3 separate regions of the Homo sapiens genome follow, and regions 1 and 2 are each linked to region 3. The links come from fine-mapping of genetic effects on gene expression. A gene starts in region 3. Each other region holds a variant in brackets. All regions are shown on one strand. Distances are between the middles of the regions.

Evidence for each region. PIP is the estimated chance that this variant, and not a neighbour inherited with it, causes the effect.
Region 1: its variant is the best candidate, but not a certain one, in a credible set for the expression of CILP in whole blood (TOPMed, PIP 0.62).
Region 2: its variant is the best candidate, but not a certain one, in a credible set for the expression of CILP in whole blood (TOPMed, PIP 0.65).

Annotation. Positions count from the first base shown.
Region 1 is chr15:65,265,898-65,268,683 of GRCh38, reverse strand. It overlaps PARP16 (poly(ADP-ribose) polymerase family member 16), which reads left to right. Exons shown (of 6, transcript NM_001316943.2): 3 at 1,916-2,122. Among named protein-coding and RNA genes, the nearest start is that of SNORA24B, 18 kb to the left of the region's middle. The variant T/C (reference allele first, on the strand shown) is at 1,550.
Region 2 is chr15:65,278,493-65,281,339 of GRCh38, reverse strand. All of the region lies in intron 1 of PARP16 (poly(ADP-ribose) polymerase family member 16), which reads left to right. Among named protein-coding and RNA genes, the nearest start is that of SNORA24B, 5.7 kb to the left of the region's middle. The variant T/C (reference allele first, on the strand shown) is at 1,720.
Region 3 is chr15:65,210,374-65,212,873 of GRCh38, reverse strand. CILP (cartilage intermediate layer protein) reads left to right here and starts at 1,401. Exons shown (of 9, transcript NM_003613.4): 1 at 1,401-1,446. RefSeq lists an enhancer at 1-772.

The sequences.
Region 1 (2,786 bases), 56 kb before region 3:
TTGCTTGAGGCTGGAGTTCAAGACCAGCCTGGGCAACATAGCAAGACCCTCTGTCTATGAAAAATTTAAGAATTAGGTGCACATAGTAGTTGCACCTATAGTCCCAGCTACTCAAGAAACTGAGGATAGAGGATTGCTCGAACCCAGGAGTTCAAGGCTGCGATGAGCTAGGATCACACCACTGCACTCCAGCCTGGGCGACAGAGCCAGATCCTGTCTCAAAAACAACAACAGCAACAAATGCTAATTGCTTCTCATGATTTTGTGGGTTGGTTGGGTGGTTCTGGGCTTGGCTGGATGAGCTAGGGTGGCCTCACTTACATTTCTGGGGCTTCAGCTGGGATGGCCACCATGCTGGAAGCCTTCCTCTGTGAGGCTCATACTCTATAGCAGACAAGCCAGGACAATGGTGAGGGGTTCTCAGCAGCAAAGAAGGAAAGACAAGCCCTTCTCAAGTCTCTGTTTGCTATATATATGTTAATGTCCCGTTGGCCAAAGCAGGTCACATGGCCAAGCACAGTCTTAAGGGTGGAGAAGTAGGTTCCATCTTTTGATGGGATCTTGGTAGAATCCCACCTGCAAAACCACATTGCAGAGGGGTGCATGGACAAGGATGAGAGGGAATTTTTACAATAAACATGAGATGATTGTAAAAATGGAATGCAGGAGATAGATGTAAAAGTGTTAGGAAGTGGCCGGGCGTGGTGGCTCACGCCTGTAATCCCAGCACTTTGGGCGGCTGAGGCGGGTGGATCACGAGGTCAGGAGTTCAAGACCAGCCTGGCCAAGATGGTGAAACCCCATCTCTACTAAAAATACAAAAAAAATTAGCCAGGGGTGGTGGCACGCACTTGTAATCCCAGCTACTCCGGAGGCTGAGGCAGAGAATTGCTTAAAAAACCTGGAGGGGCAGAGGTTGCAGTGAGCTGAGATGGCGTCACTGCACTCCAGCCTGGGCGACAGAGCGAGACTGTCTCAAAAAAAAAAAAAAAAAAAAAAAAAAAAGTTAGGAAAATTAGAAGTGATCTCCACTTATTTTTTTAATTATTATTTAATTAATTAATTTATTTATTTTTTGAGACGGAGTCTCGCTCTGTCGCCCAGGCTGGAGTGCAGTGGCGCCATCTCGGCTCACTGCAAGCTCTGCCTCCTGGGTTCACACCATTCTCCTGCCTCAGCCTCCCGAGTAGCTGGGACTACAGGCGCCCACCACCACGCCCGGCTAATTTTTTGTATTTTTAGTAGAGACGGGGTTTCACCGTGTTAGCTGGGATGGTCTTGATCTCCTGACCTCATGATCCGCCTGCCTCGGCCGCCCAAAGTGCTGGGATTACAGGTGTGAGCCACCGCACCCAGCCCTGTGATCTCCACTTAGAAGGAGCAATTCATGCTTCTCAGCCTACTGTAGGGAAAAATGTTATTATTTATTATTATTATTTTTTTAAATGGAGTTTCACTCTTGTTGCCCAGTCTGGAGTACAGTGACGTGATCTCTGCTCACTGCAACCTCCACCTCCCAGGTTCAAGTGATTCTTCTGCCTCAGCCTCC[T/C]AAGTAGCTGGGACTAAAGGTGTGCACTGCCACACCCGGCTAATTTTGTATTTTTAGTAGAGATGGGGTTTCACCATGTTGGTCAGGCTGGTCTCGAACTCCTGACCTCAAATGATCCACCTGCCTCGGCCTCCCAAAGTTTTGGGATTACAGGTGTGAGCCACCACACCCGACCGGGAAAAATGTTATTAAAGAAAGCAGTCTTGTGCTATACGCTCTGAGTTTGCTTATGTCTCTATCCTCATGAAACCTGTTGTTCTCATGAGCAGAGTCCATGGGAGTTAAGCCTGAGAGTTTAGGGGGCTATTTTTGCAGCACATTTACCAGCTCCCCAAATAAAATTTTGATGCTCTTCATGTTTTCAAGTTTGAAAAGATCCAAAAGCTGACTGGGGCTCCTCACACGCCTGTTCCTGCACCGGACTTCCTGTTTGAAATTGAGTACTTTGACCCAGCCAACGCCAAATTTTATGAGACCAAAGGAGAACGAGACCTAATCTATGCATTTCATGGTAGCCGCCTAGAAAACTTCCATTCCATTATCCACAATGGCCTGCACTGCCATCTGAACAAGGTGGGGCCTAAGGGACACCCTGCTGATGTGGGGAAGCAGGGATGGAGGTGGGAGAGTGGGGAGGGGGAGATTCAGAACCCTAGGAGTTTGCAGGTGGGGTCGGGTAGGTTTACTAACGCCTTCTCACTCAAAATGTGGTCTGCACACCAGCAGTGGCAGCATCACCTGGAGACCTAAGAAAATGCAAAATCTTGGGCACACTCTAGACCTTCTGAATCAGAACCTGCATTTTAACAAGATCTCTAGGTGATTCCTGCACTGGTTATAGTTTGAAAAGCGTCGATTTAAAGATAGTTCCCGACCTTGGCTGCATATTTAGAATCACTCGGGGAGCTTTTAAAAATCCCAGATGCCAGGCCTGGCGCAGTGGCTCACGCCTGTAATCCCAGGACTTTGGGAGGCTGAGGGAGTTCCAGACCAGCCTGGCCAACGTGGTGAAACCCCATCCATACTAAAAATACAAAAATTAGCCGGGCATGGTGGTGGGTGCCTGTAATCCCAGCTACTCGGGAGGCTGAGGCAGGAGAATTGCTTGAACCTGGGAGGCAGAGGTGGCAGTGAGCTGAGATCGTGCCATTGCACTCCAGCCTAGGTGACAGAGTGAGACTCCATCTCAAAAATTAAAAAATAAAATAAATAAATAATAAAAAATCCCAGATGCCTG
Region 2 (2,847 bases), 68 kb before region 3:
GTTTGAGGAATCACATTGTGCGTGTGCTGAATACCCAGGCTCAGGATTTCTCACCTTGCTTTTTGGGACCAGGGTTGGATGAGAGAACCTGTAACATTCTTGGGATTCCCTGTACCCCTTAACCATTGGCCTCCGAACTTCAGGTTTGTCACTTGACACAGTCGCAGCTGTACAGTTTTTTGTTCTGTTTTCCCTCCCGAAATAGCATGTTCTGGTTCTCCATTAGCCTGTAGACCCTTTCTGGGGGTGGGAAGTGTGTGGGAATGGCTTCTTTGTGTTAGCTCCAGGCCCTCGCTGCTTAGTGTGGTTGAGGACCAGCAACATGAGCCTCACCTGGGTGCTCATTAGAAAAGCAGGTCCTGCCTCAGACCTATCCAGTCAGGATCTGCATTTTAACAAATCTGGGCAATTTGTACACATAGTGAAGTCTGAAAAGCACTGCATGAAGCTTACCCTGTTCTCATTTGGGGTGCCAAACTGCTCTAATTGGGCCTCCTGGTCCTGGAGGAGTAAGGAGTCTTTCTCTTTTTTTTCCTCCCTCTTTCTGGTTTCTGGCTTGCACTGTCTAGACACCATGACTCCCCAGTGTCTGGGTTAAAGCGCATATAAGCTCCTCTCTGTCCTGAGCCCTCCTGATGCCATTTCCATCTTTGTTGAAGCAAACTCCCTCTCATCCTTTAAGATACACGTGAAATTTCCACCTTATTCTGTGCCTCCACTCCCTAGCAGTTAGGAGTCCTTCTTTTGGGTTTCTTTATAATTTTAAAATTTTGCTTTTATAAATAATACTTTGATAAACATCCTTCTACATTAATCATTGTTTATATCTGTTGTTGTCTTCTTGGATACATTCTGAGAGGTGAAATTGCTGGTCCATGGCTAATTTTTTTTTTTTTTTTTTTTGAGACGAGTTCTTGCTCTGTTGCCCAGTTTGGAGTGCAGTGGCGTGATCTTGGCTCAGTGCAACCTCTGCCTCCCGGGCTCAAGCGATCCTCCTACGTCAGCCTCCCGTGTAGCTGGGACTCCACGCACATACCACTAAGCCTGGCTAATTTTTGTATTTTTAGTAGAGATGGGGTTTCACCATGTTGCCCAGGCTGGTCTCAAACTCCTGGAGTCAAGCAATCCGCCTGTCTCAACCTTCCAAAATGCTGGGATTACAGGCGTGAACCACCACACCTGGCTCATGGCTAACCTTTCTAAGGAAGGCTTTCGATGCTTATTTCCATATTGGAAATTGAATATTGACATTAACTGGGGAAGATCGTTATTATTATTATTATTGGATTAAAAGAAAAAAGGCAGGAGTCTCGCTATGTTGCCTAGCTGGTCTACAAACTCCTGGTCTCAAGCAGGAGTTGTGTCATTGAGCCCGGTTTGGAAAGATCATTCTTTACAAGCCTCTCAACCTTGGTTGTCATTGAAATCACGTGGGAAACTAAGGAAAAAAAAAAACCCTGACGTCTGAGCCCCATCCTCAGAGATTCTCATTTGATTGGTTTAAAGTGCAGCCTTGGCATTGAGATTTTTTGTTTGTTTCCTTACAGATAATATGTAGCTTTTCTATTTTTCTAGTAACTGATTTGATCATTTTCATGAGCACCCATACCTGCTGGATGGTGAGGAAATGATAACAATTAGATTTGTTAATAATAAAAGTGCCTATTAGGTCTATACTTGATATCTCAAGGTAAGATTCTTGATCTCTCAGATTACCTT[T/C]TTATTTCTCTGCTCCTCTCAAAGATGGCATCTGAACAGTGGAGGAGAAAAAGTACACAGGTCTGAAAATATATGGATACAGACATAGATACATATAATATTATGTGACTGTCAGTGGGTAGGTATGTGTCTAGAAAGATATCAGCTAATGGGATGGTGATATGGAGGGTGAAGGGGTGGGATCCATCCCTCCAGGACCAGCCATCTCTTTCCTTCCAACGATCCCAGAAATGCAGACCTTTCCTCAGCAGATTGGTGAGCAGCAGAGAGAGGGTATTTGATTGATAATAATAATATAGCAACCAACACCTGTACCACACTAATAGCACTTACTGTTTGTGTGGCGCTGTCTTGAGCTGTTACTACACGTAGCTCATTTAATCCTCCTAACAACTCAGGGTTGTAGGTTTTAGTATTATCTTCATCACCATCAGCTAATCACTGGACGTGGTGATGGCACACCACTCTTGCTCCCAGGCACTAGGACTTTTAAAAGTTCCTAGGAGAACCCCTACTTCCTAGGAGAACCCTTTAGGGTCCCCATGCTGGCTCCTCCTGTGAAGAGTTCTTTTGTAGACTCTGATCCCTAATCTGTTTTGGCAAATCTGGCCTTTCATACTGTAGGTTTGTGCAAAGCAAATTGTACCTGTGGTGTCCACCTCTTCAGCCTTCATTTCAGCAGCCTTCTAGCTCCACTCATCGCCCCTGCCCCACTGTTCTGGGTGTCACTGTGGTCCCAAAAATGGTGACCTTGGCAGACCTTTGGTTCATTTCCTTCTCAGCACCTCCACCCACATCTAGTAACTGTGACCTCTGACACTTTCCTAGACAAGTATGTTTTTCAGATGTTTGTTCTTTCCTGCTGCCGCACCTTTCTAGGACAACATTGTCTAAGATCTAAACCTGAGTATCTCCAGCTTTTCCTGATGATAAGAATCACTTGTACCCACATCTGTAATCACAGATTCCTGGGCCACCTCCTCCCCAGGAGCTTGTGATCTAAGTGATTGCTCCTGCTCCAAGCAAGGAGGTTGAGTTGCTTCCTTGTAGCTCATTGGTCCTCTCTTTCCTCTGTGAGGCCTATTCACCCAAAGTACCTCTTTCCTAAGAGGCTTCTCTTCCCAAACC
Region 3 (2,500 bases):
CACACACACACAGAACTCTCTGGCATGTGGGTATGCACTGTTGTACTACGGGATCATTTCCACGTGAGGCTCTTTCCTCTGAGTGCAAGGATACATCTCTTTTCTTGTGCCTTCCCAGTGCCCAGTCTAGAGCCTGGGAATAAGAGCTCGGTAAAGGTATGTGGAGAGAGTGAGCTGACCCTGGCGTGGATGGCCACAGGACCAGGCCTCCATCTCCAGTTGCTGGCATGAGGCAGGAAGCCCAGCCCAGGCTAGATGAGCCTGCTACATGGGGCAGGACCTGGGAAGCTCCCACTGTGGTCCTTAGTACACTCGCTCTTCATCTTCTTCCTTCAACTGGGGCTCTATCACTGTGACCAGTCAATCTCAAAATGTGATCCATGAACCAACAGCATCAATCTCATCTGGGAACTTGTTAGAATGCAAAGTCTCAGGCCCCACTGAATCAGAAACTCTGGGTGTGGGGTCCAGAAATCTGCTTTAACCGCCCTCCAGGTGATTCTAACACATGCTAAAATTAGAGAACCAGTGTCTGTGCAAACAGATAACCTCATGCTGGGGCCAGGGGGCCGGGAGTGGGGGTGTGAAGCCCCAGAGCACATGCAGCTGCATACGCCCCCTATGGGTAACACTGGCTGTTCACATGCTGGTGGATGCCTATACCTGAAGGCAGACACGTACTCACACGCATGCACATATATGAGCATCAGGGTCTCAGAAGAGTCCACATGCTGGAGCTCTGGGGTCTCAGTGGGTACCAGCAGGCACTCAGATGGAAGTGGGGGGGAGAAAGGAAGAACTGTTCTCACCAGCTGACAACCTATGCCCCACAATTCTTTTGTCCCTTATCCCTTCTGAGGTTCCCTGAGTGTTCCCTCAGAAGCCAGAGAAGCTGAGTAGTTGCCCAACTCAGACCAGACACACCCAGCTGAGAGGCCAAGGTGGCCTGTGTGCCTAAGAGTGTTTGGAGTATGTGCTAAGACCAGCAAAGTCTTTTCTCTGTGTGGGCGAGCCAGGGCCAGGGGAATGTGGGGCATCAGCAAGCTAGGCTTAGGCAAGAGCACACCATCCCCCGGGCCATGAAATGCTGCCCAGATCTAGAATTCCCCGTGGCCCCTTCCCAGGGCTGTTTCTAGTGCCCAGCCCACCTCCTGACCCCTCTCTCTGCTCTGGACTGTGATGCCCCAGGCCACTGCCCACCTGGCCCATCACCAGGTCCTGCGGCATCTCCTCCTTAGGATCTGGACATAAAATCCTGGCCTCTGTGAACTGCAAGGGGACATGGGGAGGGGAGAGGGAGGCTCATGCTCAGATCTGGTTTCGCTGCTGCTTCCTCTGGCTGGCTGCCACAGGCTGAGCCACCAGCTGTGCTATATAAGGCCGGCACTGGACTGCTGGAGAGGCGAAGGCTTGGACCCCCAGCTGAGGAGTCCTGCTCAAGACACGGTGAGCTCCACTCCTATTCCCCTCACCCCATCCCTGCACCCCACTGCTGGACTCAACTGCTCCTGCCCTCCCCTGACTACTCCATTCCCTTCTCCCCACTTCCCCCCACTTTTTGCTGCCTGATCCTTCATCTCCCACAGAGAAGACTCCCTTTCTGCTTTGGGAATCTGCTTTCCCCCATTGGCCCAAAGTCCTCTCCCTCCCCCACCTGAGGACAGGAACCCCCAGATGGTCCCACTTAGGGTTTCCATACCTCTGGGTGCCCTGCTTTATTCCCTGCGGTCAGCCAGTCTGCTTTGTCCAAGTGTTCTGAGGAGCGTGGGATGGCAAGCCTAACCATCAGGGCATATGCTGAGGAAACGGCGGAGATGCTGAGAAACCTCTGTGGGCTGCCAGATGGGAAATGGTTTTTCCACAAGGTGTCTCAGGCCACCTCAGCCTCCAGACATCCCTGGAGCAGGCTCAGGCTCAGGCTGAATGCAGTGCAGGCCAGCAGACTGCTCAGCTCCCTGCTTGGAGCCCAGAGGGATACACACAATGTGGAGGCCTTTGGGACGTCCTGGTGACTCTGCTCCCTCATCCGAGAAACAGGTAGTGGTGGGGCCAGTGGTTTTAGAGCTAGAAGGTCTGCAGCATGGGACTGGTTTTTTCTTCCCCTGGAATATCCCAGTGTTTTCAGATATGTGTATTTTTTAGAGAGGAGGACTCTTCCCTTTCCTACCACACCCTGGACTTAGGATGTTGAAGGGAACCACTTTTGAATCCCCAGAAACGAGTCAGATTCTGGGTTGGCCGGAGCTCTGGGGAGACATAAAAATGTTCTGCTCAGCTGCGGCCTGGGCCACGCACGCCCCATAGTTCCTTGCCCTTGTCCCAGGCCTGCTTTCCTCTCCTGACCCTTGCAGTTCCTCACCCACGCTCAGCAGTTACTGGGGAGCCCTGGCCTCTCACAATGCATCCCCTCTGCTTTCCGTCAGCTGGCTCCTGGCTGTGTAACTCCCAGTCAGGCCCCAAACAAAAAGGCCAGAAATGTGTTCCAGCTGCAGCCCGTGCA